7 separate regions of the Homo sapiens genome follow, and all the other regions are reported to be linked to region 7. The links are microRNA targets in miRTarBase. Many come from high-throughput screens and were not tested one by one. Region 7 holds a microRNA gene; each other region holds the end of a gene's coding sequence.
Evidence for each region. Region 7 holds the annotated microRNA hsa-miR-7-5p (UGGAAGACUAGUGAUUUUGUUGUU, at 2,611-2,634, opposite strand). A microRNA usually pairs through its seed, bases 2 to 8, with sites in the 3' UTR of a target mRNA and lowers its output. Matches are read on the target gene's strand: a 7mer-m8 pairs with bases 2 to 8, a 7mer-A1 pairs with bases 2 to 7 and ends in A, and an 8mer does both.

Region 1: the mRNA of NXT2 is a reported target of hsa-miR-7-5p. Seed matches in the 3' UTR shown: 8mer at 2,219-2,226, 8mer at 2,211-2,218 and 7mer-A1 at 2,071-2,077.
Region 2: the mRNA of ADCY9 is a reported target of hsa-miR-7-5p. Seed matches in the 3' UTR shown: 8mer at 1,588-1,595.
Region 3: the mRNA of APLP2 is a reported target of hsa-miR-7-5p. The part of its 3' UTR that is shown has no 7-base or 8-base seed match.
Region 4: miRTarBase lists ROR1 as a target of hsa-miR-7-5p. Seed matches in the 3' UTR shown: 7mer-m8 at 1,965-1,971.
Region 5: the mRNA of TMED2 is a reported target of hsa-miR-7-5p. The part of its 3' UTR that is shown has no 7-base or 8-base seed match.
Region 6: the mRNA of SSX1 is a reported target of hsa-miR-7-5p. The part of its 3' UTR that is shown has no 7-base or 8-base seed match.

Annotation. Positions count from the first base shown.
Region 1 is chrX:109,541,949-109,546,016 of GRCh38, reverse strand. It overlaps NXT2 (nuclear transport factor 2 like export factor 2), which reads right to left. Exons shown (of 4, transcript NM_001242617.2): 4 at 1,319-3,510. The coding sequence ends at 3,329. Among named protein-coding and RNA genes, the nearest start is that of NXT2, 7.1 kb to the right of the region's middle.
Region 2 is chr16:3,962,335-3,966,402 of GRCh38, forward strand. It overlaps ADCY9 (adenylate cyclase 9), which reads right to left. Exons shown (of 11, transcript NM_001116.4): 11 at 319-4,068. The coding sequence ends at 3,441. Among named protein-coding and RNA genes, the nearest start is that of TRIDDENT, 14 kb to the left of the region's middle.
Region 3 is chr11:130,142,752-130,146,819 of GRCh38, reverse strand. APLP2 (amyloid beta precursor like protein 2) reads right to left here. Exons shown (of 17, transcript NM_001142276.2): 17 at 2,015-3,473. The coding sequence ends at 3,372. Among named protein-coding and RNA genes, the nearest start is that of ST14, 15 kb to the left of the region's middle. RefSeq lists an enhancer at 1-961 and a silencer at 1,032-1,326.
Region 4 is chr1:64,178,079-64,182,146 of GRCh38, forward strand. It overlaps ROR1 (receptor tyrosine kinase like orphan receptor 1), which reads left to right. Exons shown (of 9, transcript NM_005012.4): 9 at 1-3,420. The coding sequence ends at 777. Among named protein-coding and RNA genes, the nearest start is that of UBE2U, 24 kb to the right of the region's middle.
Region 5 is chr12:123,596,451-123,600,518 of GRCh38, forward strand. TMED2 (transmembrane p24 trafficking protein 2) reads left to right here. Exons shown (of 4, transcript NM_006815.4): 4 at 155-2,132. The coding sequence ends at 279. Among named protein-coding and RNA genes, the nearest start is that of DDX55, 3.6 kb to the right of the region's middle.
Region 6 is chrX:48,266,186-48,270,243 of GRCh38, forward strand. SSX1 (SSX family member 1) reads left to right here. Exons shown (of 8, transcript NM_005635.4): 7 at 102-206; 8 at 669-1,259. The coding sequence ends at 202. Among named protein-coding and RNA genes, the nearest start is that of SSX1, 13 kb to the left of the region's middle.
Region 7 is chr19:4,769,266-4,773,333 of GRCh38, reverse strand. It overlaps MIR7-3 (microRNA 7-3), which reads right to left and starts at 2,664; the gene lies at 2,555-2,664. It overlaps MIR7-3HG (MIR7-3 host gene), which reads right to left. Exons shown (of 3, transcript NR_027148.1): 1 at 3,983-4,068; 2 at 3,577-3,704; 3 at 778-1,170. RefSeq lists a silencer at 3,503-3,797.

The sequences.
Region 1 (4,068 bases), not on the chromosome of region 7:
CCATCTTGAATTAATTTTTGTATAAAGTGTAAGGAAGGGATCCAGTTTCAGCTTTCTACATATGGCTAGTCAGTTTTCCCAGCACCAGTAGGGAATCCTTTCCCCATTTCTTGTTTTTGTCAGGTTTGTCAAAGATCAGATGGTTGTAGATGTGTGTTATTATTTCTGAGGGCTCTATTCTGTTCCATTGGTCTATGTCTCTGTTTTGGTACCAGTACCATGCTGTTTTGGTTACTGTAGCCTTGTAGTATAGTTTGAAGTCAGGTAGCATGATGCCTCCAGCTTTATTCTTTTTGCTTAGGATTGTCTTGGCAATGCAGGCTCTTTTTTTAGCTCCATATGAACTTTAAAGCAGTGTTTTCCAATTCTGTGAAGAAAGTTCTTGGTAGCTTGATGGGGATGGCATTGAATCTATAAATTACCTTGGGCAGTATGGCCATTTTCACAATATTGATTCTTCCTATCCATGAGCATGGAATGTTCTTCCATTTGTTTGTGTCCTCTTTTATTTCGTTGAGCAGTGGTTTGTAGTTCTCTTTGAATTAATTGCCTCCCACAGGGGTTTCTTCTTTATTAGTCTTACTAGTACTCTATCTATTTTGTTGATCTTTTCAAAAAACCAGCTCCTGGATTCATTGATTTTTTGAAGGGTTTTTTTTTGTGTGTGTGTGTCTCTATCTCCTTCAGTTCTGCTCTGATGTTAGTTATTTCTTGCCTTCTGCTAGCTTTTGAATGTGTTTGCTCTTGCTTCTCTAGTTTTTTTAATTGTGATGTTAGGGTGTCGATTTTCGATCTTTTCTGCTTTCTCTTGTGGGCATTTAGTGCTATAAATTTCCCTCTACACACTGCTTCAAATGTGTCCCAGAGATTCTGGTATGTTGTGTCTTTGTTCTCATTGGTTTCAAAGAACATCTTTATTTCTGCCTTCATTTCGTTATTTACCCAGTAGTGTTGACATATTTTTAATGTAGAATTAAATTTAATGAACCATTCTTTCTGGAAATCAACTGTATTTTGGTTTCACTGCCTATCGAATATAGCATTTTAGCTGGTTTCTCAAGGTTAAGATTTCCAACTTCTCACCAAAAACCTACAGGTATCTCAAACAAGTGATGATCTCAGGAATGTGAATAATTGGCAGGAAAAGGAGACAGATGTGGCAGGTTACAGAAAGAACCAAAAGAAGATCCAAGTTGTTAACCATTGTTGTCAACACACTACTGTAATTTTTTTCTAAATTTAAAAAACCTTATATTGTAAAGAAACAAGTAACCATTCTGAAACCTAAGAACAAAAATCAAAAGACCTTAAAACAATCTTGAGAAAATCTGTCACAAGGCAAAATTTTATTTTTTCAAGTTACAAAAATAGGAGCATGTCAAAAATACAGTCTAGTCCTTATACGAGTAGTTCCAGCCATTTAAAAGTTATACAGAGTTTGGAAAAAGCAGTTTATATACAAGTCTTAAAACACAACAATCATGAACAATGCACACCGTTCAATGTAGTTATTGCTAGTTATATGCAGCTTTTAGTTACCATTGTTCTTCTCTGTAAGGGAAAGGACAGCATTTGGACATTCTGATTGTTGCTGCTGAAGCTGTGGTTTTGGAAAATCAATCCAAAATAAGAATAAGCTCACTATGAGTAGAATAAAACGTGTAAGTTTCAATCAGTACTACAAGAAAGCATGGTTTAAATTTGAGTTCCATACAATTCTACATAACTCTATTTTGTTACTATAACAGAAATACAGTGTATAGTTTTGGGCAAGAGTAAATGAATTACTGGTTTTATAATTAAGTGAAAAGAAACAGTTTTTGGTTGCAATGTAGAAACAAAGCTGGCATATCTAGCTTACAAACATTAAAAAATGGAAAAGATATTTAATGTTTAAGCAAAAGCTGAACCTAGGTTATTTACCTTTAGAAATTAAGAGATAAAGTTAAGCATTTTGTTCTTTTGAGGATTATCATGAAGATTTGCTATTCTCTATTTTCTTTTTAAAAAGAAGAGTTATCCACATAGCGGGAACATATTTTGAAACAGATCTATTTGCTCAATGTCATATGGAAGAACAAATCACAAAATTAAATAATTCTACCTTTAAATAATTAAAGATAATGCAGTTGACAGTACAAAGCACTGGGAAAAAATCACTTATTTGGGGGATGTGTGATACATAAGAAACTTTGGGCCTAAAGTTCACATGGAAGACTGGAAGACTTAAAATTTAAGGGTGTCACCAAAAGATAACAATGGCTTTGACTCCAACTCTCATGTTAGACCCTGTTAAAAGGTTAGGTTTATTGCTGTTATTTTACCCCAGTAAGTTATTGAATAAATGGAGATATACATTGGTGATAAGTATGAGGTGAAGTAAAAAGATCTAAAAATATTAGTCTTAGAACAAAAATGACACTCATGATCACTTGGCAAGGATACTTATTTACTTAGTGATTTAAATCCTAAAAATAAGCTACATTTTTAGGAGGTAGAAAACAAGTACCAATAGTTTACCATTTGGCCACCCTCCTTACTTTTGGCTTCAGCCTTGGATTTCTATTTCTCATTCCCTATTCTCCTGTTAAAGCTATTAGTTCTACTACCATTCATTACCTAAATGTATAGACCTGGAGCTGCCAAGAAAAATCTTTTTAGGAAGCTTTGCTTTTAAGCCACCAAATGCACCCAATACTCAGATATCAACTGAGAACGTTTTGCACCTCTCTAGTTGATTAATTTACTTCACACAAAAAAATGCCAAAACAAAAATTACTTAAAATGAAAAACGACCACTGAACATCTCTATATGCAATTCCAGTATGTCAGAGTAGTTATGTAAACCTAAATCTGTACTATTTTCACTGAACTGATTTGAAAAAGCCATATATTAAAATGGCATTACCAGTGTTAACTGAAAACAGGCAACGTGTTTTACTAGAAAATTAACCTAATAACCAAAAAACTCCACTTCTTCCCAGAGTGTTATATTGTGCTGACATCCCATAGATAATATTATAAAAAGATTTTATTTTTGCAATAGGCTGGGTTCACAGTGAGTATGTTAGTACCAAGATCATGTGTTTAATATTATTATAAGAATGTCATTAGTGGAATGTATATAAGGCATGTAAAAAAATAGTTTTAAAGCTCTTAGAGGGCAATGCTCCAAACTGGCAGCTGCTAGAAAAGGTGCTGACAGGAATAGAAAATATTAAAGAAATTTAGTTTCAGCACATATTATAGTGCTTCTACAATCAAAATAATTCACATAAATTTCAATTGCTGGAACTAATGGACCAAATGAGAATGGACTTTTGCCCCTTTAACTACTAGACCAATCTTGAAAACGGAAGCAATCACTTGCAATCTTCCACACAGTATTGTTGGGAGTGGACTGAGCAGTCAGCAGGAAGTTCTGGTTGAAGAAATGTTGTTTGTTTCCATCAAACTTCACAGTTCCACTGGTCACAACAAGAACTGTAGTTTGGGACTGAGTTGCTTGCTCTTCATCCACATTAAAAAAAAAAGAGAACACATCATTTTCTATCTCTAAATAAGCAGATTTTCAGGCTTAAAATACATTGTTTATGGACTAATGCTTAAAATTTTTTTCATACACTTTCTGTCCCTTGAGCATAATCTTAAGCATGCATACTCAAACCCAGAAAACTAAGTACTTAGTAAAAGATATTAAAATTATTTTCAGTCCAGAAAACTTTGGGATACTCTAGTTTCAAAATGAGGAGCTTATATCTAGCATAGGACCATTTGCTTCATATATATATAAATATTTCAGAATTAATATTTCAGGTTTCTAACAGAGCTTATTCATGCTTTGCTTCTTAAACTATTGTTCTTTTCAGGAATTATAAAGGAAAAAAATCACCCTGAACTACAATTTAAGACACTTAGGACCCCACCTAGAGGTTTTATTAAACTGTATCAATCTACCTGGAATCAAATTTTCTTGTAAAAAGTCATCCTTTCACATAACAGAGTAAATTTCTGTGAAATATTAGTAGATTGTAAGATACTGAACACATTAATCAGAGATATGGTATA
Region 2 (4,068 bases), not on the chromosome of region 7:
TATTTAGGAGGCCTGACAGGGAAAATCTCACAAGCAAAACTTGTCCTGCAACCTTACTTTTATTGTTTAAAAAATTCTGTGTAAAAATAAATACTTTTCAACTCAAGTTAACTGGAGCAAATAGATCCAATTAAAAAAATAACATAAACACAAACAGGGTTTTCTACTTGCCCTGTTTCTGAAGTCATGACGTGAAAGAAAGGCAAACCCACCCAGGTGAGCCACAGATCGCAGAAAACACGAGCTGTCCAAGGAAGACCGCCCTCCTCTCTGAAGCAGTGCTCATCTTTTCAATAAGAAAACACCAGGCATCATATATTTAAATTTTAGAATATTTTAATGTCCATTTCTTCAGTGAATGCATTTTGAAATTATTAGAATTAACAATTTAAAAAGAGCAGATAAAAGGATATATGGAAAATGCAAACAGTCGGTTCTTGCTAATTCAATTTCAGATTCTAGGCATGATGTGATTTTCCAAACAACCAATTAAAAAAAACTCCTTACCTCGAAAATCTAGAAATTCAAATGCAGACGTGTCTTTGGAAACTACAAATGATTACAGCCCATGTGACAGGAAGCACGCGGCCTTCGGCTCTCCGGATCGTGTGCAAATGTGCAGGGGGAGCCCCCGCGGGTGACGTCAGTGTGGATGAAGTCACGGGTGTGGCAGAGCCTGTGGGGCTCTCAAGCTATTCGAGGGTTTTGTAACTGATGCTCTACATTTGTTTGCATTGGATAAAATTGTGTGTGCTTGTTTACCATATATATATATATATATATATATATATATATATATATATATATATGGATATATAATTCGATCTGAGCTGGGACTGAGAAGAAAATAGCAATTGCAACTCAAAGCAACTATTTACACACATTCAATGCTGAAGTATTGCTTCCTGCCCTAAGTTCCTAAGAGGTATTGCCACCCTGAAGCACGACCCATGCCGTCAGCAGCCCTCGTGCCAGCTGCTTAGAAACTCGTGTCTCCAGCACGATGTGCTCGCTGCCAACAGACAAGAGATGCACGGCGTTTCCGCTGCAGAGATTCTGTGGTTCTGCACTGAGGTATGCATCGGAGCAGGGGACGGGGAGGACCCGAGGGGCTTCGTGGCCCAGAGAGAACGTCTGCACTGGCTGTTTAGGAAGGCTCAGGGTGTTTGAAAGACAACGTTAAGCTCTGGGTGAGTCTGCACGGGGCTGAACCAGACTCCACTTTGCAGCTCCTTGGTTTCCCGGGGTGAGGAATCACAAACACCTTTGTGGTTGGGGAAGGAAATGGGCTTGATGGGGAAGAAGTGTGTGCGGAGAACTTTGCGGAGCATGTTCTGAGCGAGACAGCAAGGTCGTGAGCAAACGCCCAGCCCCTCAAAGCTACACAGCCTGGAGGGGAAAGGGGAGGGGAGGACATTCAAATATACACCTTAATACTGATGCAGAAAGAGCTTCATGTGACCACAATCCCCACGAACAAGGAAAGCATCAGGTAGTGTTTTTTAAGGAAAAAAAAAAATCTGCGGTGTTTTATAATACATTCTTTAGAAGCAAGAGGTATTGTCACAACCACCCTTTCTTCGGTATTGGAAGACCAGCAAACTGACAGTCACACCTGACAGGAAACCTTACAGCTAATGGGGGGAGGTGCCCTGGACTCTCAGGACGCCGGGACCCTGGCTCTGGCTGTCCTGATGGGTGGCCATCCCAGGCACCGCCCCTGGAGAGGTGGCGGGTCAGAATTGTGACTTCTTCATGCCGGGGAGGGCAATCTGTATGTCTCTGGGGAGGAGTAGTGATGATGGGGACTGATGCGGTGTGAAAACGAGACAGTGAGATTTGACAGCGGAAAGCAAAATGCACAGGGACAACGGGCAAGACTGACAAGGAGTGCACCCTGGGCCTCATCAGCGTCCCGGGGTCCCCTGAAAGACTGGCTACAACTCCGACCGGACAACTCGGGCGAGCTCACTTCCACACAAACTTCAGACTCAATATGGCAAAACATAATCAGACAGGACCAGCAGCCAACTGCCCGGACGGAGCTCCCCCACACCACCCTCGGGATTCCGCCCCTAACAAACCCCGCGTTTGCATCCAGATGCCTCTGTCCCTAGATACGGTGTGAGAACTCCATTTCAGAGCTGGAATTTGCTCCCCAGATTAAATCCTGCCACTGATAGGCCCTGTGCCATCTGAGAGCGGGAGGCAGCCAAGAAACTTCTGGAATTTGTGGAAGCCAAGATGGCACCGGTGCTGCCGGCACAGACCCCCGTGGTTCTGAGCTGGACCCCGGCAGGGAGGAGCCCCCGTGGGTGGCAGGGGCAGCTGGTGGGCTTCTCCTATTCCCCTAGCCTCAGAATTGCACTGGCCATGCTTTGAGGTCCCACTCAGACCCCTCTTGGGGTGGGGAGGTTGGGGGCGGCCCCAGGTGGCCAAAACACAAAAGAGACATCTGGTTACCTTCCTGGGAACTGCCCTCCCCTGTGGCTATGACCCCCCACCCTGAGGACCCAGCACCCCTCCCGGGAGCGCACATGCTTCCGGGTAAATAAATAAATAAATAAATGCAACCTCGGATGTTTATTTGGTATTTCCCTCTCCGATGAGTCAGCTTCCAGGACCAACACCTCCACTCCCGATGGGGAGACCCCTGGGTGGAGGGTCGGGGGTGAGAGGCGGCTCTGAGACCCCCGAGGCCTGGGCACACGGGCGTCGTGCCCGGCTGGCATTTGCTGTCTTGGCCTGCATGCATGTGGGCGAGCCCCTAAACCCGCTCAGTGCAGGGAGCGCGGCTCACCCACAGCCCACGGGGCGCGGTGCTCGGGAAAGTGCGGGTGGGCAATGGGGGGTGGCGGAGCTGTCGTGACATGCCCCCTTCGCACCCCCTCTTGGCGGATTACTGGCACTTTATATCAGATTCATGAATGCAAGTGTGTGTGCGCATGTGTGCTTACATAGAGAGGTCGGGTCGTAGAGGAACACTGTGACATAGACAGAAACAAAATAAACTCAAAAACAGGGTATTAGCCAGAGAACCGAAAATAGTGTCTCGTGGGACGTGGGAAAAAGCAATAAAAATGAGATCTTAACCACAGCTTTTGTTCTAAAAGTCAAATAATACCCAAAGCCATGATCTCCACTGGCGGCCTCTGTCCCGAGACTCGAGGCCGAGGCCAGCCCTGAAGGCACTTGTTCTCCACCACGTGCTGAACGGATGACCCAGAGGCAGCGGGGTTTCCAGGGAAGGGAGCGAAAGGGAAGAATGGATGAAAATGAACCCTGAATAACTGTGATCCACACAGAAGTTAGGGCTGAAATGACCACATAACACCACGTCCGGGGAGGGCAACTGTGGCGCTTGGAAAGCACAACAGCCAAATACAAATATTACTGTGTTTCGACAAACAGAGCACCTCGGGCAGCGGGTGGGCGCCGCCTCACACACTCTTTGAAACGTTGAGCTTGGTGAGTTCGTTGGCTTCTTCTATTCCTGTTTCGTCACAGTCGTCTTTCTCTATGGCTTTGCCAAATCGACCCCTTTCTTCGGCTTTGACGGGCTCCTTCCACGGTCTCTTGGGGGACAGGTGGGCATCCTTGGCCTGCGTGCTGCTGTCAGAACCCAGAGATGTCTTGTCCACATACTGGACAGAAGGCACCAGGTTGGCAATCTCGTCTGTGGGAGACCGTCCGATGCTGCCATCCACCTGGACGCGGATGTCTGGGGAGATGGACAGCTGGTGCTGTGGGATGACCCTGTGATCCGTGCACTTTGGGTACAGGTAGGTCTTCATCTGGCCTTTCCCCTTGACATTCACGGTCCCTCTGTAGTCGAAGTCATAGCCCATCTTGCTCAAGACGCGGTAGCTCTCTTCGCTCACCTGGATGCGGCACTCCACGCCGGTGGTGTCCATCCTGCTGGCGATGTTGACGGTGTCTCCCCAGATGTCGTACAGCAGCTTGGTGGTGCCGATGACCCCGGCCGTGAGGGGCCCATGGTTGAAGCCGACGCGGAGCTTGAAGTTGAACCACAGCATGTTGTTGTTGAAGTCGTCCACCACGCGCATC
Region 3 (4,068 bases), not on the chromosome of region 7:
TTAAATACTTTTTCACCTGCTCCTATGATAGTGGACCCTTGGGCCTCTCCAAAACTTAGGGACTCATTACATCCTCATCTGTACCTCCTAAAGAGCTTTGTCAGTTGTCACAGCAACAGAAACCAGAGATCAGGGCATCTGATGTCCTGGCTCAAACCTCAGCTGCTGAGCTCTGATTTGCAACTGAAAGCAGACAGGCAGGTAGGAGGACCTTCGCACCTGTCAGCACCAGCACCTGAGGCTGGCCGCAAGGTGGGCAGGGCCACATTCCCCAGAGGTCAAGGCTGAGTCACCAAGGCAGAAACCAGGAGCTTCTCTCAGTTCCCGGGAGGTGGGTGAGCCACCAGGGAGCAGAGTGGAGCCTGCCTAGGGTGAGGCCGCCTGGCAGCCCTGCCTCTCATTCATTTCCACGTCATCTCTCAGGCCTCCCCAGTTCTCAGCTAACCCCGACTGTCTCTGCAATGACCCCATTTGGGTAATGAACGTGTAAATAGAAACCACTGCACTTTCACCAGCCCCAAACTCCTCTCTAACCCATCAGCAACAGGAATGTGAGTAACAGGTAAGAGACTCGAGAGCTGAGCAGCTGGATGGGTATTGGCTGCCATGCCCCCGCCCCTGCCTCCCCCAGGACTGAAGTACACTGAATAAAGGAAGAACTCCCACCGAGCTGGGTTTGCATCTCTGCTCCACCCCTTACTGCTCCGTGGAAGACCTCAGCGTCATTTCTGGAAGAGGGGAATGCCTCAAAAGGTTAAGACTAAATGGAGCTGGGCATGGTGGCTCACGCCTGTAATCCCAGCACATTGAGAGGCCGAGGCGAGTGGATCATGAGGTCAGGAGTTCGAGACCAGCCTGGCCAACGTGGTGAAACCCTGTCTCTACCAAAAATACAAAAAAAAATTAGCCAGGCATGGTGGTGCACGCCTGTAGTCCCAGCTACTCGGGAGGCTGAGACAGAATTGCTTGAACCTATGAGGCAGAGGTTGCAGTGAGCTGAGATCGCGCCCCTGCACTCCAGCCTGGGCAACAGACTCTGTCTCAAAAAAAAAGAAAAAAAGACAAAAATGCGCCTCTGACTTGGAGGCAGCTAGTACATGGCAGGCACTAAAATCAATGAAGCTGGTCTGTTAGCTTTGAAATCAGAATGACCCTGAGATCAGTTTCCAGCTGATACTACAGAGGGTCAGGTGATAACACTCTTCAGAGCACTCCAGCAGAAACTGGTTTCAAAAAACAAAAAAGTTCCCTCTTCTTCAGGGCTTTCCTGGCAGCAACTTCAGTGACCAATGCAGGCAGAAGGGAGAGGCTGATGGGGAAGTGGTAATCATTATAAAGAACCAACCTGTTCACCTGGCTCACAAAATGCTTTCCTGGCTCATAAAACACTCCCTAGTCCAGTATCCTAGGGAAGATTCGTCACGTATGTACACACATGTACATCTACACACAGCTATATATGACATTACCTTGATAACTACTCTGTATATTTAAACTGGCATTAAACTAGGGTAGGGACTGAGATTTACCCCTGAATTGACCCTCTTCCCTGTAGCTGGGCATTAAAAAGATCTTAGCTCAGTAGATAAAACTGGGCCCAGGCAGAAAGCCCTCTAAGCAGTTGCCAAGGCAACAAACCAAACACCCCCATCAGTGAGGTGACAGGGCCTCCCAGTGTCAGGTTATTTAAGCAAATGGAAGCTGCAAGCATTCCTCTGAAAATTCAGCCACAAGCCCTACTCATTGTTCCCAGTAGCATTAAGAAGTCTCATATTAATAAATATCAGTAGCCTAAATTTTGCCAGACAAATGCTCTGTGCAGATGTTCCCTCTTACTTTGCTTTCTAAATGCGAAACGGCGCTGGAAGCCTTGAGTCACAGCTTGAGCAGACGTATTTCCGCCTGTGAGGTGCAGCTGGGGTCCTTCGTGGAACGAAGTTATCACCCTCCTGGAGGAAGGGGGTAGGACCATCACGCAGATCAATGCCGCAGTCAGTGAAACGAGCAGTCTCGGTGGAAGTTAAAGTATTTATTGATGTGTTTAAACTGTGTACATTCTCCACAGATCATATTAAGGAGTTTGTAGGTGAAGTTTAATCTGTGCATAGTGGGTAGAGACATGAATAGGGTCAAAGGGGAGGAAAAAGGAAAAAAACAAAACAAAAACAGTCACAGGAAAATAAAAATACACCACAGGTTACCAGAACCTTCAGATTTAAAATAAAAAGAAAGAAAAAGCAGAAGCAGTGAGCATCGACATCAACTGTACAAGCATTACAAAGACTCCTGTGACGAAAACACAATTGTTCAAAGCTTTCCACAGTGTCCACAGACTCAGTTTCAGGGACAGCCTGGACTACTTTCCTTTCACACAAACAAACCTCCCCGTGTTCTCTCCTGGGCCAGCGGCCGCCTCCTTGGTGTGGTCTTCTCTGAGTGAATGTCACAAGGCCGGTGACAGGAGGGGGTGGAGGTGAGGGGACAAAGTAGAGGCCGAGGGTCAGTGCCTTTGGAGAAAGTCCAGAGAGGAGGAGCCTGCACATCTGGACATAGTTGGAAGGGGAAGTGAACGGTAAAAAGCTACGGTAGGTAAACAACAGACAGTGAAGAATGTCAAATATAAGCTACAGGCTAATCTCTGTGGAAGCACTGGATTCCGAAGGAAAGCAGCAGCGGACACCCTCATCTGTATACACTAAGCTCTCTAGAAGACGCTGGAATAAAATGCCTTTAACGTCCTTGGTGACAGGACTTTTATGGAGACACACAGGTATCCAGCCGTGGAAACACTGGACTTCAAGAAACTGGTCCTTTCACATCATTTTGCGAGGGTCTCTCACGTGCTTCAGTGGCCATTACAGTTCCCTATTCCACCCCATTTCTCAGCAACTTCCTGAAAGCTCATTTAAAAAGGGAATACTGCCTTTTTTTTCTTTAAATAAAAGCCAGGACAGTGAATGAGGCTGAAGAGTTGACTTACACAACATAACCGGAACGACAGCCTGCATATAAGTCTATTATTGAAAATCGACATTTCCCATTTATTATATATTGAGAGCATGTGTCAGACAATACAATGGAAGTGGGGTTTCTGATTAATTTAAAAAAGAAAACTACATCAAATATCTGCAATAGATCATTTTTTTCATTTAAGGTTTATATATCATATATTGTTATATTACCATTTTTCACCCATTTAAAAGAATGGAAATTGCAGTTCTACAGTAGTACTTTATATAGTCCTACAGTCCAGGAGGTCAGGATGTCAGACGCAGCCCCTGGCAGCGGCTGCTGCTTGGCAGTCGATCGGAATCGTGGGATCTTCCGGCCCACCTGCATCCCTCCGCCAGGGCTGCCGCGCTCCCTGCCACCTAAATCTGCATCTGCTCCAGGTATTTGTAGGTGGGGTTCTCATAGCCATGGTTCTGCATCTTGTTCAGGTGACGCTCTTCTGGGGTGAGCATTGGATCAACCTGGAAGAACAAAACCTGAGGGTCATTGTGGTGTCTGGGAAGAGACCTGCACAGGGTGCTGGGAGACCTGAGCCATTTGCTGCACAATCCCCTGAGGACCAAATGCAGCCAGCAGCCCGTTCCCACCGGACAGGCCAAATGAGAACCGGTGGTGAAACACAGGAGAAAGAAAATAAGGGGATCAAAGAGGCAATGCTTTCGAAACGAGAGCCCTGAAAGCTTAGCCCTCACGGAAGATGACAGTCAACTGGATTTCCTAGCACCGTGGTGACAAGCAAGGCTCGGCGCCACTGCTTACTACCTGGGCCAGCCAAGGCAAGCCAGTCAGCAGTAGGCTAGCAAGCAGACGGTGGGACCAGGGGATCTCTGGTCTTTTTCAGTTCTGAAATTCTACAGCTAGGCCAGTCTCCAGCAGGAGATAAAACCAAGTAACTGGCCAGGTGCAGTAGCTCATGCTTGTAATCCCAGCACTTTGGGAGGCTGAGGCGGGTGGATCACTTGAGGTCAGGATTTGAGATCACCCTGGTCAATATGGGGAAATCCTATCTCTAATAAAAATACAAAGACTAGCTGGGCGTGGTGGCACACACCTGTA
Region 4 (4,068 bases), not on the chromosome of region 7:
GTTGTCTTGTGGGAGATTTTCAGTTTTGGACTCCAGCCATATTATGGATTCAGTAACCAGGAAGTGATTGAGATGGTGAGAAAACGGCAGCTCTTACCATGCTCTGAAGACTGCCCACCCAGAATGTACAGCCTCATGACAGAGTGCTGGAATGAGATTCCTTCTAGGAGACCAAGATTTAAAGATATTCACGTCCGGCTTCGGTCCTGGGAGGGACTCTCAAGTCACACAAGCTCTACTACTCCTTCAGGGGGAAATGCCACCACACAGACAACCTCCCTCAGTGCCAGCCCAGTGAGTAATCTCAGTAACCCCAGATATCCTAATTACATGTTCCCGAGCCAGGGTATTACACCACAGGGCCAGATTGCTGGTTTCATTGGCCCGCCAATACCTCAGAACCAGCGATTCATTCCCATCAATGGATACCCAATACCTCCTGGATATGCAGCGTTTCCAGCTGCCCACTACCAGCCAACAGGTCCTCCCAGAGTGATTCAGCACTGCCCACCTCCCAAGAGTCGGTCCCCAAGCAGTGCCAGTGGGTCGACTAGCACTGGCCATGTGACTAGCTTGCCCTCATCAGGATCCAATCAGGAAGCAAATATTCCTTTACTACCACACATGTCAATTCCAAATCATCCTGGTGGAATGGGTATCACCGTTTTTGGCAACAAATCTCAAAAACCCTACAAAATTGACTCAAAGCAAGCATCTTTACTAGGAGACGCCAATATTCATGGACACACCGAATCTATGATTTCTGCAGAACTGTAAAATGCACAACTTTTGTAAATGTGGTATACAGGACAAACTAGACGGCCGTAGAAAAGATTTATATTCAAATGTTTTTATTAAAGTAAGGTTCTCATTTAGCAGACATCGCAACAAGTACCTTCTGTGAAGTTTCACTGTGTCTTACCAAGCAGGACAGACACTCGGCCAGAAAAAAAAAAAAAAAAAAAAAACAAGCAAACAAAAACATTGTGGGATGTGCACTCCATTGGAGTGCATGACATGGCATTGGGATTGGAACATGTGGTTTCGAGCACTGAAAGCTGCAAACCAGTGAAGAGGAAAAGAACCTTGTGATTAAATATAAAACCAAAAGTCAAATGGTGCTTTGTGTTTTAGCCTTCAGTCACCATGACTGGTCTCTCCCCCAGATGTATATATACCATAGCATTTGTCTACCTGCTGTCTTTTCTTCAGGACAGATGTTCAGGAATTATATTGATTGAATTTAGACTCTGTGCATGTTCTTATGGAAATGATGTTCAGAATCCATGAAGAAACTTCAGGCCAAATTTGAAACCCTGGAGGGAAATGAGCCATAAGGGAAGTATAACAAGCCCTGAAGCCTTTTATGTCGTTGTGCTTCTTTGGGAAGGTGTAGAGTGTGCCTTTTTGTGAATCCTCCTCTGATCATGAGGGTCTTTCCCACAGTTTCTCACAGTGTGTTTACACTGCCCTTGGAATAACACAGCGCATCAGACCATAAGAAGGCTAGATGTGGATGCTAGAATTGATTGTTGGTTGATAGTTCTCTTTGCTGGATTAGGAATGAGGCGCCAAAGGAAGCACAGCCAGGAAAATGGCCCCACAGCCTAGATCAGCATCTGTGGGAAAGGAAAAAGGGTTCCCATGGGGACAGCCCCCATAGGAGTTTTCTGGAACCAGTAACACTGAAAAATAAGTGTGTGGCTACAGATGAGCACGCCCACCCCTTGCAACTCCCTGTTTACAAGTTGTCCGAGGCATTGGAGTGCTTATGGTCAATGGGCTCTAGGGAAGTAGGAAACTCCATCATGATACAAATGTCTAGTAATTTTAAAGTTTCTTTCCCTTTTTTTCTGTGCTGGAAATGTTCACAGATTTGATTCCCGCCCCAAGAATTACAACAATGTATTCATACAGTCAGTTGGAATCCAAAGGCAATTAATTCTATTTTGCAAAATATGATGGTCTTCCTAAAAAACAAGTACTGAGTTCTCATTTCAAAAGTTACCAAGAACTGAATTCTTTAAACTAGCAAACCGAAGTAACATGACCATTTTTGCCTTAGTGGGAGGTTTCAAATGTGCAGCTCATGGCATTTACCTGCCGACCATCTTTTGCCAAGTTTAGAATTCTTATGCGTTTCAAGTTCTATATAGAAAGTAATTTTACTTTTGATTTTTCTCTTGTTAAAAAAAAACTCCTTTATTCTAAGAACAATGTCTCAAAGTCTCATTTTTACTTTAAAGGTATAAGAGACTTCTAAAGAGACTTACGGGATATAAAAGTAATTCCTGGAAATGATATTTGATGAGGAGAATGTAAGAGAATGAAAAACACATTGATGTTTTCATTTTTAAAAAATACAACTAGCATGAGAAATCAAGAAAATATGTTTACCAAAATGCATTGCAATTTTCCCAAACCTGAGTCTTCAAATAACAAACATGAACTTATAGGTACTGTGAACTAGAAGAATTGGTTATATCCAGATTTCTGGGAGATAAATTAAAACATATTTTTGTGGCATAAATAAGCTGATTCAGAAGTTACATTTCTTAACTTTAGGTAGAGGAGAATATTTGTATCCTTTTGTTGCTATGCAACTGTTTAATGATGAAGCTTCAAACCACAATTTTGTATATCATATGACAATCAATTGTTTTCCAAGAATATTTATTATTTTAAGTACACAATTTCAGTGAATCTTGAGTTTTTCTAGGAGTCCCTTAAAGGGAAATTAGCATTCCATGAGCCAGTAAAATACCTACTCTGGTAAAACATTATTATGGTTAAAAAGTAAATTCAAGTTAGTTTTTTATAAAGAACTATAACATTTATTTTAAACATTTTATAATAACTGAAAACATTAAAGTGAGCAAATGAAATTTCAAAACCACTTGTAATAATGTATTTTATAATCGCACTGTGATACTATATAACACAGTCTCTTTTGTATTAAAATAGTATTTTTTTCACAAGCTGAAAAATATCTTTTCCTTTGTTGACAATGTTTTGTAAGATGACTTTATTTTCAGATCTTTTTCTCCTTTTTTGCACAAAACTATGCTTATGGTTTGTGTCACAGAAGTGAAAATATATCTTTGCATTTTTATATCTGGTCTGTTTTTCTTGTTTCCTTTGTTTTTAACTTGATATAGATTTTCTTCAAATATATAATGGCAATTTTCAGATATCTCACCTTACCATATCTTTCCTTATTTTCACTGCATGCATTTAATCACTGTATTACTTAATGTTTGATTTGTTATTATGGGCATTTCAAATAGGCAAGCATTGAATTGTAATGACAAAAAGGCTATTTTATATTAAGGATATATGCATTTGTATTTCACACACCAGAGATGATATTAAACACTGATTATTTTATGCTGCTGTTTATTAAAAATGTTTACTATAAAATATTATTTCCTGAATATTGCTGTCATAGAGGTATTTGGGGATTTTAACATTTACATTTTATAGAAAGAGGAATCACAATTCCTATTTGCTGTTATTTCATTAAATTTTTTTTTTTCAGTAGGCTTTTAAAACAGACTTGGGCATTATTTTGCTAGCAACCATAGGTGGAGAGGGGAATCCTAATGATTTCATAACTGAATACTATCCACCTATATATGGCAAGCTTTGAATTTTTAAAATCAAAATAATATATTGAATAGTTACAACCAATGGAATATAAAAAATATTTGATTTTAAGAATATAGTTGCATCATTTTCTGCCTTAATATTTCCATATAATCTTAGATATCAAAAGTCACCTCTTTGGACTCTAAAGAAGAAGAGGCTGTGTACATCTTATCATGCCCAACTTAGCTTCCAAACATACTGATAAAATAAATGGGGCCATTTAATTGTCACAACTTATCTTTATGACCTTATTTGCCCAAAAGAAAGAGTTCCTCATCTGGCAATTAATACACATGGTCAAGGAAAATGAGTACCATAATGAAAGTTCAAAGAAGTTGTCCATATCTGCTATTTAACACAGAAAGGAATACAATAAAACCTTTAGGGCCTTATCCATCTGTTTTAGGTACAGCTCTTGTC
Region 5 (4,068 bases), not on the chromosome of region 7:
GGATGTAACCCCATCGTAAGTTGAGGAACATCTATTCTATGAGTGGTGTACACAATATTACTTTCACACAGAGTGAAGACTAAAATATTTATGATGCCTATGTCTTTTTGGGGGAGAATTGTTAAATTTTGTTTGTTTGTTTTGTCCTCAACAGTCAACGACAACACAAACAGCAGAGTGGTCCTTTGGTCCTTCTTTGAAGCTCTTGTTCTAGTTGCCATGACATTGGGACAGATCTACTACCTGAAGAGATTTTTTGAAGTCCGGAGAGTTGTTTAAAAAGCCTCTTCCTGATGATCCCAACTCAGAATTCACTGTTTACCAAACACCTTGGTCATAATAATGTCATTAGTTTCTCCATTTTTATTTTCTGAACTGTACATTCACAACTTATGTTTCTTTGAGATTAATAGATATTGGGGGAAAAACGCCTTTTTAGGAAAATTATAGTGAAAATTTGACAGTTGATTGGCATAATTTCTTGTTTGAATGCTGCCTCCATTATATAGGTCCTTCCAGGAACTCAAACACTGTAAGTGAAATATGGGAGTATAGTTTTTATTATTTCTTCTTTTCCTTTTGTTTTCATAATATAATGCAGTTTGTTCAGGAAATCAGCACAAAGCCTGATAGTACTTTACTAAAATGACTGCATTCTTTGGATTCCTTCAGTCTATGGTTCAAGTCACTAAAGATTCATTTTTGTTGAGTCCTTATGAGAAACAGCAGTATGAATCTTGACGGTTTCTGCCCGTCCTAATGGCAGAGCTCTCTGACTTGGGTGTATGCTGCCAGGCTGGGTACTTTCATACTTTGTTTTCTTGTTTTGCTTTAAAACTACGACTCAGCATACATTTTCCCACATACATTTTTACATTGTACCTTAGGACTCAGTCATCTCCACTTAAATTGATGACACAAGCAGCTAATAACCATTTCTGGGTTTCTGCCTAACCCCCTAATTGTCTGTTAAAGCCAATTCTCTGGGTGTCCCAGTGAGTGGTGGCTTTTTTTCTTTCCACATTGGCACATTCACTTCTCCCACTCTTGGCATGTAAGAAATAAGCATTTACATAATTGGAAAAATCTGGATTTCTGATGCCAAAGGGTTAAAGCTTCTTGGATTTCATTTCATTGATATACAGCCACTATTTTATTTTTGATCAGTGGCCTTTGGGCCACTGTTCAGGGTACTGACCATCAGTGTCAGCATTAGGGTTTTGGTTTTTGTTTCTTTTGGGTCTTTCTTTTTTGGCACATGTGAATCTTGTTTTGTGTAAAATGAAATTACTTTCTCTTGTTCTCTGATGATGGGTTTAAAATTAAAAGAGCATCCGGTTTTGGTATGGGGATGATCCAGGATTATGTTGTGACTGATACATATTAGTTACTTGTGCTTTTTTTTTTTTTTTTGGATCTTTGCAAGGGCAAAACTACAAGTAACGAGTTTTATATAATTAATTTAAATTTGTTACAGGTTTTCATGTTCAGGATAAACCATACTTCCACCTTGGGTGAGAACACTTGCAACAGTTTATTAATGAGGTGACTTTCACCTTAGGACAACTGTTGCATGCCAAGTTTTTTGTGTGTGTGAAACACTTCAAAACTGATTTAAAAGATGTAAATTTAAAATTGGTTGTATCTAATATGCCCCAGGTTCGGTAAATAAACAATTCTTTTTAAAAACAGTATTCTGTGTTTTATATATTGACAGCTAATCCACATTTTTTACACACCAACTTTCTGTTCTTATTTGACATGAGACATGTTCATGTTTTCTGAGTATTTATACCTATTACGTCTGTTACTTTTTAATTCTATAAACTTGAGGATAGTGAATGGTACCAAGTTTTAGTTTCTGCGTAGGTTTTCCAGTGTGGCTTCTCTGATGGATCAGTGCTAAAATCTTAAGTATTTTTCTATTTGGGAAAAAAGGGTTGAATTATTTTCACTTGCCCACGTAGTTTATGAATGTGGGAAATAGCTTCAAAGACAGATTAAATGATTTGCCCAAGGCCACAGAAAAGAGTGAAAGGTGGAACCGGAGACTAGATCACCACCTGTAGAAACTGTTCTTCCTCTGTGAAACTAACGGCCTGCTGGTAATAAAAGTAGCTACCATTTCTTGAGTACTGTGTAATGTCTCGATCTAGTACTAAGCACTTTACTTGGTCTGTCTTATTCATGCTTCAAAACTGCCATTACCTTGGGTAAAACCATTTTGGAAGTGAGGAGGAAAACAGGCTTGGAAAGGGTCTTAAGGTCAGAAAACTAGTAGGTAGTAGAGCCCAGAAGACACACACAGATATGTAATTTCCCTGTGCCTTTGCTTTCAGAACTGTCTGTGAAGTCTCCCACCTTTTCTTTTTTTGGAGACAGGATCTCACTCTGTTCCCAGGTTGGCTTGATCTCTGCTCACTGAAGCCTCAACCTCCCGGGCTCAAGTGATCCTACCACCTCAGCTCTCCAAGTAGCTGGGACTACATTTTTTGTTTTTTAAAGACAGGGTCTTGCTTTGTTACCTGGACTGGAGTGCAGTGGCACAAACATGGCTCACTGGAGCCTTAACCTCTCAAGTGATCCTCTCATCTCAGCCTCCCGAGTAGCTGGGACCACAGGCATGCACCACCACGCCTAGCTAATTAAAAAATTATTTTTGTAGAGGCAGAGTCTCCTGTATGTTGCCCAGGCTGGCCTCATTCTCCTGGGCTCAAGTGATCCTCCTGCCTCAGCCTCCCAAAGTGTTGGGATTGCAGACATGAGCCACCGTGCCTAGCCGAAGTCCCATTTTATAAAAGTTGTCAAAGGTGTTTTGAGAATGTGATGATCATTTCACTGAAAATGTGGCTTCAGGCTGTTGTCTTTTACTTAATTTGAGATGACTGCAGTCTGCATGAGTTGTATTCCCATTTATCAATCCCACAAATATTTGAGTGATTGCTGTGTGCTACAGTGATAGTCCTTGGGATAAAGAAGATAGAGAAAAGACCCTATTAGTGTGGGTTTTACATTTTGGTGGCAGAGATGAACCTAATAAGTTTTGTGTGTGTGTGTGTGTGTTTGTGTGTGTGTGGCGAGAAAGAGATAATGGTAAATGCTAAGAAGGGAACATAAATCAAGGTAGGAGTTTCAGTGATACAGAAAGGAAGGTAACAGAAGTTGATTTCAAAAGTCCAAGTGGAATGTAAGGGAGTGTAAGGGAAAACTTCCCCTTTGCTCTCAGGTTTCTCTAAAAATTCAACTGAAAATAGGCAGATTAATAGGAGGAAAGTGATACAAATTTATTCGGTCATGCTTTTACATGACAAAGGAACCTTCAGAATTAAGACCCAAAGTTACAGGGAAAACTATTTTTATGCTTAGGCTCAACAAAATATGCACAGCTGAGTAGAAATAGGACTGGACAAGAAGGGCATGATCTAATGCTCATAGACTGAGTGGGGAAGCCCAGCGAGGCCTGTCTGGATTCTTTCCTTCTGGATAGGGGAAAGAACCCTTCCTGGAATGGGGTCTTACAACCTACCAGCAAAACAAAGGAGGTCAGATACATTTTTTTTTTTTTTGGAGACAGTCTCTCTCTGTCACCCAGGGTGGAGTGCGGTGGCGCGATCTTGGCTCACTGCAGCCTCCGCCTCCCGGGTTCAAGCAATTCTCCTGCCTCAGCCTCCCAAGTAGCTGGGAATACAGGCGCACGCTGCCACATCTGGCTAATTTTTTTTTGTATTTTTAGTAGAGACGGGATTTCACCGTCTGGTCTCGAACTCCTGAGCTCAGGCAATCTGCCCGCCTTGGCCTCCAAAAGTGCTAGGATTACAGGTGTGAGCCACCACGTCTGGCCTTTTTTTGTTTGTTTGTTTGTTTGTTTGTTTGTTTTTTGAGACTGAGTCTCACTCTGTCGCCCAGGCTGGAATGCAATGGTGCGATCTAGGATTACTGCAGCCTCCACTTCTCAGGTTCAAGCGATGCTTGTAGCTCAGCCTCCGGAGTAGCTGCAGGCACCTGCCACCACACCTGGCTAATTTTTTGTATTTTTAGTAGACAGGGTTTCACTACGTTGGCCAGGCT
Region 6 (4,058 bases), not on the chromosome of region 7:
GGGCACTTGGGAGGGAGGAGGCATCTCCTTTTTTTGAGAAAACAGAGCCTAACACTCTTCAACGTACCCAACCCTCATCTTCCAACTCTTCTCCATCATAGGACCCAAAAGGGGGAAACATGCCTGGACCCACAGACTGCGTGAGAGAAAGCAGCTGGTGATTTATGAAGAGATCAGTGACCCTGAGGAAGATGACGAGTAACTCCGTAAGTGAACCTTCGGCTCACCCTCCACATCCCTGCAGATGTGCTATTCTGTTATGGTACTGGTATCCCATCTTGTCATTTGTTTCCCAAATCATTCCTTTCTCATAATTTTCTACTGTACAGCATTGAGGCTGAATGATGAGATTTCCCATGCTCTTTCTACTCCCTACCCTGTATATCCAGGGATCCTCACCACCCAGGATGCTGTGGGTTCCCAAACCCCAGGTCAGCCCTGATATGTGGCCACACCTTCTTCTAGCCTAGGAATGCATAAACCAGGCGAGGAAGTCACTGTGGCATGAGCAGATGGTTCACTTCGAGGAACCATGGAAGGCGTGTCCAGGTCCTGGGGTAGGGCAGAATCAGAGTGTGCAGGGTCTGCAGGTCAGGAGGAGTTGAGGTTGAGTTATTGGGCAGTGGGAACTCGCTGTCACTTACTTTCCTTCCCTCTTCTCGCCTCAGCCTGGGGGATACGACACATGCCCTTGATGAGAAGCAGAACGTGGTGACCTTTCACGAACATGGGCATGGCTGCGGCTCCCTCGTCATCAGGTGCATAGCAAGTGAAAGCAAGTGTTCACAACGGTGAAACTTGAGCGTCATTTTTCTTAGTGTGCCAAGAGTTCGATGTTAGTGTTTCCATTGTATTTTCTTACAGTGTGCCATTCTGTTAGATACTATCCTTATAATTGATGAGCAAGACATACTGAATGCATATTTCGGTTTGTGTATCCATGCACCTACGTCAGAAAACAAGTATTGTCAGGTATTCTCTCCATAGAACAGCACTATCCTCATCTCTCCCCAGATGTGACTACTGAGGGCAGTTCTGAGTGTTTAATTTCAGACTTTTTCCTCTGCATTTACACACACACACACACACACACGCACACACACACACCAAGTACCAGTATAAGCATCTCCCATCTGCTTTTCCCATTGCCATGCGTCCTGGTCAAGCCCCCCTCACTCTGTTTCCTGTTCAGCATGTACTCCCCTCATCCGATTCCCCTGTATCAGTCACTGACAGTTAATAAACCTTTGCAAACGTTCCCCAGTTGTTTGTTCCTCTCATTATTGTGCACACAGCTTTGTGCACATGTGTGAATATTTCTTTAGAAAGATTCTTAGAAGTGGAATTGCCATGTCAAAGGAGTCATTTATTCAACAAAACCCTAATGAGTGTGTCCTCGTGCTGAGCGCTGTTCTAGGTGCTGGAGAGACATCAGGGAACAAGACGGGGAGATGTTCCTGACCACCATTCTAGAGGAGGATGTTTCCAGTTGTTGGCTTTCTTTGTTTCTTTGTTTGTTTGTTTCTTCTGGAGATGGGGTCTTGCTCTGTCCAGGCTGGAGTGCAGTGGCACGATCATAGCTCAATGCAGCCTTGAACTGCTGGGCTCAAGCGATCCTCCCACCTTGGCCTCCTAAAGTACTAGGATTACAGGCATGAGCCACCGCGCCTGGCCTCCAGTTTTTATTTTGATAGGGACTATACACTTCAGTCCTGGAGCAGGATTCTGCAGCAGGTGGTTGGGCAATTTGGCCTTCGCTCTCTGAACAATTTTCGGGTTCTAGGGCTGGGATGGTCCATTTGGGAGTATGTGGGAAGAGACACAGATGAAATCGTCATCTGGGGAACATGGAGGAATGAGGAAGATGCGTGCACTGTAGACCCTGTGATGGCCAGGGAATAGAAGAGTCCACTTAGTCTCCATGCAGGGGAGCAACGGTGGGAAGGTCCCCTGGACAGAAGCATGAGACTGCCCATCAAGGGTCTCACCACCCAAGGGCCTGGGGGCTGGGGTGGGGACGATGATTTGGGAATGGGACAGTTCTTTCTCACAGGTACCAATGCACGGTGCAGAGGGGAAACAGTTGTGGGGAAGGGAAGGGCAGAGGGGAGTCTATTTTAGCACAAAGCATTGTGTGTGAATGGAGACATCAAAGCTCCATTCACACACCATGGACTTGAAACACCAGCCCCAGGTGGAGGCAGGATTGGAGCTGTTTTGACCGTCCATAGCCCATCACCTTGGCCTCCTGGTTCTCCCAGCCTTAGAAGGAGCACACTATGATCATTATGCCTATATGACAGATGAGAGACGGAGTCCCAGAGAGATGGTAGGCGTCTTGTCACAGGTCCTACAGCTGGCAGGTGCAGGAGGAGCTGAGTTTGGAGCTCACTGACTTCAGAAACATTAAGGAGGACAGGTGTGTGTGGTGGAGGAAGGGAGAACTGAACAAGTCCCGGGTTCTGTCCCGTCACAAGGTAGAGGCTGTGGGTTCATTTTCCAAGACAAGGAACCCTTAGAGATGGAGAGTGCAGGGAGGAAGAGGCAATCGTGGACATAGTGGGACAGTGGGAGACAGAGATGTGCAGCGTAGGGAGAAGAGGGGCAGGCAAAGAAGCAGGGGATACCCAAGACCAAGTGTGGGCTGTCACAGCCACCAGAGGGAGAGGGTGCCAGGAAGGAGGTTGTGGGGCTCCAGGAGCAACAGAGGTTCCCCAGATCTGTGAGCACGCCCTGCCTGGCACTGCAGGAAGAGGTGGCTGCCCCCCAGGTCAGTGTGGACGTGCCTCTACCTGTGTCTCAGAGGAAACAAATTCTATTTTATCCCAATATAGTTCTGTATTACACAAATGTAACATTCGGCTACTAGATATCAGGTGCCTTATCCTCCATGCAAACAGAGGAGAGGATACCCAAAAAGAGATACTGAAGGATTTGGTTTTTCTTTCTCCCTGGGATGATGGGATCCATAAGTTGGGTCCCCCAGCCCACAAGACAGGTGCCAGGAAGGGTGACTGGAAGAGTGTGAGTCATGACAGGGAACATTTTTCCTTAGGTTTCTTGGGTATATAAAGCTCCCGACTGTCTATCATGGATAGATAAAGAGTGAACATGGTCCCCTCTCCACAAATGTGTTTCTTTCCTTCATTATTACTGTGAAGTGCCGAAGATACACCAAGTCCTGATACATTACTTTTTTTTTTTTTTGAGACAGAGTCTCGCTCTGTTGTCCAGGCTGGAATGCAGTGGTGAGATGTCGGCTCCCTGCAACCTCTGCCTACCAGGTTCAAGCGATTCTCCTGCCTCAATCTCCAGAGTCGCTGGGAACACAGGCGCGTGCCACCATTCCCAACTAATTTTTTATATTTTTAGTAGAAACGGGGTTTCACTGTGTCAGCCAGGTTGATCTTCTGGCCTCGTGATCTGATGGCCTCAGCGTCCCAAAGTGCTGGGATTACATGCGTGAGCTAGTGCGCCCAGTGATGCATTACTTTTTTATGTCTGTGTTTTTTTATATTTTATTTTTTATTTTTTTATTTTTTTTGAGACAGGATCGCACTCTGTCTCCCAGGTTGGAGTGCAGTTCTGCAATTTCAGCTCACTGCAGCTTCGATCTCCCAGGCTCAAGGGATTCTCCTACTTCAGCTTACGAACTACCTGGGACTACAGGCACTTGCCACCACACCCAGCTAATTTTTGTATTTTCTGTAGAGACAGGATCCCACTATATTGCCCAGGCTGGTCTCTATCTACTGGCTTCAGGCAATCCTCCTGCCTCAGCCTCCCAAAGTGTTAAGATGACAAGTGTGAGCCACCTCGCCAGGCCTTCGCTTTCTTTAATGAACAATTATCAGAGTTTCATCTTAGAGGCAAAAGTGGCTACTGCCAGCCAATCTGAGTGTTGTGTCGGAGGGGAATCTGGCTGGTTCAGACGTTTCAAATGAACTTTTAAATTAACCTACCTGATGATTACCCTAAGGCCCTTTCTCGCTCCATGTTTTTTTGATTATGGGTTTGGAGTTTTTCAGAAGCTTTCCTACAAAGAACATCTCCTGACT
Region 7 (4,068 bases):
TGCTCAGAGGGGAGACAGTGAGGAGATCCGGACATGCAGGGAGGCGGAGGTCATGGAGGCAGAGGGCTGGAGGGAGGTCATGGAGGCAGAGGGCTGGAGGAGAGAGGATGGATTTGAGCACAGTGACTCATCTTGGGGATCATGGGGAGTGGATGAGGAGGGGAGGATCTTGGGCATGTAGAGGGACTGTCATATTCATGGGCATGTCAGGGGAGGAAGCTAGGGGCTGGGCAGATTGAGTGTTCACTTTGAAATGATTAATTTGGGGTGACTGGGAGACACCCATAGCAGAATGTCCTCCTCCATTGAGGACCCCAGAAGGCAATATCTGTGTGCCTTTTCCTTTCTGAAAGACCTTGCATTCCCAGGGGGCAATTCTAAATAGACCAGGAAACCTCCCACAATTAGACCTAACCCAGACATTGAACCTCCCTCTGCTCAGCCCATTCATAAAGTGCCTCTGGCATTTAGGTGTCTTCTAATCTCATTTTCTCTGCTTGTTAATGGACCCACTGAGGCAGTACTCCTGGGAGAGAGAGAAAGATTTCATTTGTCTGGGGCTGAGGAGGGAGACGAGGGTTGCCAGAGCTAATGAGGAATCAGTGCCTTGTAATTGCTAATTAAATGAGCCTGGCTCTCTCTCTTGGGGCTGTGAGTTGGCTGGCCGGCCCTTAAGTGTCCACAAATTCAATTATGCTTCCCCAATAAACACCTCCAGCAACCATTGCCCTCCAGTATCTCTCTGGGGGAGACCTAGAAGAAGGATCTTCCTGTGTGTGCTGAGGCCATTCATTCATTTATTGATTGATGTATTGGTTTATTCTTTGATGCCTTTATTGATTCAACACATGCTTATTATATGCCTGCTGTGTGCCGGGCCCCGGACCAGGCGCTGGGGACACAGCAGTGAAAATACTAACATTGTTTCTGCCCTCACGGAGCTCACAGTGTAACAGGGAGACAAATAGACCTGTCAGTAGATAACATGAAAATAATTGGACTATGTGCTGCAGACACAATATCCCAGGTCTATGAGAATGTCAATACAGACTTCACGTGGGAAATGGTGAGGCAATAAGGATCGTTTCCCTTGATGAAATGGAGCTTGCAGAAGAAGGCAGGGTCAGTTGTGGGGAGCTCTGGTTGGAGGTGGAGGGAGTGCATTCCAAGCTGCAGGAACAGCAGAGGCAAAAGCCCTGAGGCTGGAGAACAGGTAACCATGTGCAGTTTTTCACTTGATTAGGGTGTTGCAGAGAATTGGGAGTGAGTCTTATATATTTATTTATTTATTTATTATTTTTTACTGAGATGAGGTCTTGCTATGTTGCCCAGGCTGGTCTCGAACTCCTGAGCTCAAGCTATCCTCCCACCTTGGCCTCCCAAAGTGCTGGGATTACAAGTGTGAGCCACCATGTCTGGCAAAGGTGGTGAGCCTTTATGATGTCATAAGTCACCACTGGGCACAAGTTCACACTTGTCCTATGATTGGCCCATGACACTGATGGGTAGCAGACAGGAAAGGAATCTTTTCTGAAACTTTTTTTTTGAAACAGGGTGTTGTTCTGTTGCCCAGTCTGGAGTGCAGTGGTGCAGTCATGGCTCACTGCAGCCTTGATCTCCCAGGCTCAAGTGTTCCTCCCACCTCCTAAGTAGTTGGGACTACAGGCATGTGTCAACTCACGGGGTCTCACTATATTGCCCAGGCTGGTCTCAAACTCCTGTACTCAAGCAATCCTCCCATCTCATCCTCCCAAAATGTTAGGATTACAGGTATGAGCTCCCACACCCAGCCCACTTCTGGAACTTTTATTGAAAAGTATCCTTAGGCTGGGTTCGGTGGCTCACACCTGTAATCTTGGCACTTTGAGAGGCTGAGGCAGGAGACCATGTCTTTACAAAAAAGAAAAAAAAAATGTTTTTTGAGACAGAATCTCTCTCTGTTGCCCAGGCTGGAGTGCAGTGGTGCAATCTTGGGTCATGCAGCCTCTGCCTCCTGGGTTCAAGGGATTCCCATGCCTCAGCCTCCCGAGTAGCTGGGACTACAGGTGTGTGCCACAACGCCCAGCTAATTTTTGTATTTTTAGGAGAAATGGAGTTTCACCATGTTGTCCAGGCTGGTCTTGAACTCCTGGCCTCAAGTGGTCCACCTGCCTTGGCCTCCCAAAGTGCTGGGATGACAGGCGTGAGCCACCCGGCCAAAAAAATAATAATTTTTTTTTTAATAGAAAAGTACCCTGAGAACTCTGGTCTAGGGAGGGCTTTAAATGTCATTCCCTCATTGGGTCTCCCAGGAAAGCGCCATAAGGTGGTTAGAGGTCTTGGGTTTAGAGTCAGGTATGTTCTATCTCCAGGCTTGTGGGGGCGTACGAGTGATGTGACAAACCCCATACATGGTGCATGGCTGTATGAGCACAGGATGTATGTCCTTGTTTGCTTCCCTCCTTTGCCTGTGCCTGTATCGCCTGGAGTGAGCCAGCCCCCCCACTCCGAGTGGAAGCGATTCTTCCCCGACCTCCCCGGTTCTCCCCCACTGGCCAGCCCATTGAAGGCGAAGGTCGAAGGGAGTCTGCGCTATGAGGCCGGCTGTGACTTGTTGTCGTAGTACATCAGAACAACAAAATCACTAGTCTTCCACACAGCACTAGACCACAGCCACTCTAATCTTCTTCACCACCCTCTGCCCCATGTCTGAGACCCCTGCCCAGCTCCTCCTTCTCACCTGAGCCAAGCTATGACACCTGAGTTTCCTGCCTCTGTGCTGCCTCCCTGTTTTCCATTCCCGGTTCTCCTGGAGAGAAGCAGGGTCTGATCTCCAAGGGCCCACCTCCCACCCAGGCACGTCAGAGACATGGGATTTGGAGTTGGACTGGTGGGGTTGACTTACAGCTTCACTTGTGGGCTGAGAGTCCCTGCGTGGGTTATTTTTCTGCCTTTCTCAGGGCCTTGGGTTCCCCAAATGTCACATGGGCACAGTAACACCCATGTCCTAGGGTTGAAGATGGCATGATATGATGTATGTAAAATGCTTGGCACAAGGTTTCTCACCGAAGTCTGGAAGAGACACCATAATGTCATCTTAGCAGGCAGCTGTTACCCCAGTGAGGTATCTTACCTGTTGAAAATTCCGGACTTGGGCCAGGCGCAGTGACTCACGCCTGTAATCCTAGCACTTTGGGAGGCTGAGGTGGACGGATGAAGAGGTCAAGAGTTTGAGACCAGCCTGGCCAACATGGTGAAACCCCGTCTCTACTAAGAATACAAAAATTAGCCGGGAGTGGTGGCATGTGCCTGTAATCCCAGATACTCGGGAGGCTGAGGCAGGAGAATCCCTTGAACCCAGGAGGCAGAGGTTGCAGTGAGCCGAGATCGTGCCACTGCACTCCAGCCTGGGCGACAGAGCAAGACTCCGTCTCGAAAAAAAAAGAAAATTGCAGACTTCTGTGTGTGCTTATCTGGAAAATACTTTGTTTAAAAATCCATTACATGAGGTGCAGGTCTCCAGAAATGCCAGGCACCTCAGACCACCCTCTCTCGTCCTCCCCCTGCAAAATCAGGGTCAAAGGGCTCTCCCGTTACCTGGAGGAGCTGTCCAGGGTTCTGGAGACGAAACGGAGCCCGCTGGGAACTGTCCTGAGCCCCGGTGCTGAAACAGATCGCGGTTCTCTTCTCGGACCTCCCGAGAGGCGCTGTCCGGATATTTGGTGCTGAAATAAATAGCATTCTCCTCCTTCGGTCGGTGGAGAGCTGTCCCTCGTGCTGAAGAAAACTTGATTTTCCTCTCTCTTTCCCCGTTCCCCCACCCCTCTTCGTTCTCGGTTCCTCCGATTCTTGGGAAACCCCACCCCCACTCAATTTATTTCCCCTCCTAGCTTCTTCCTGGGGAGCTTCAGAATGGCAATGGGGTGGCGGGGGGGAGACACAGAGGGGTCGCAACTAGCACTGATACCTGCTCCTCACCCTGTACCATGTCCCCAGAACTTACCTCCCAAGCAGTCAGCCCTGCTGGTCTCTGCTTTCCAGACCGTCAAACTTCGCCGTCTCTGTCCCTTTCTGGGAAAATGTCCATGC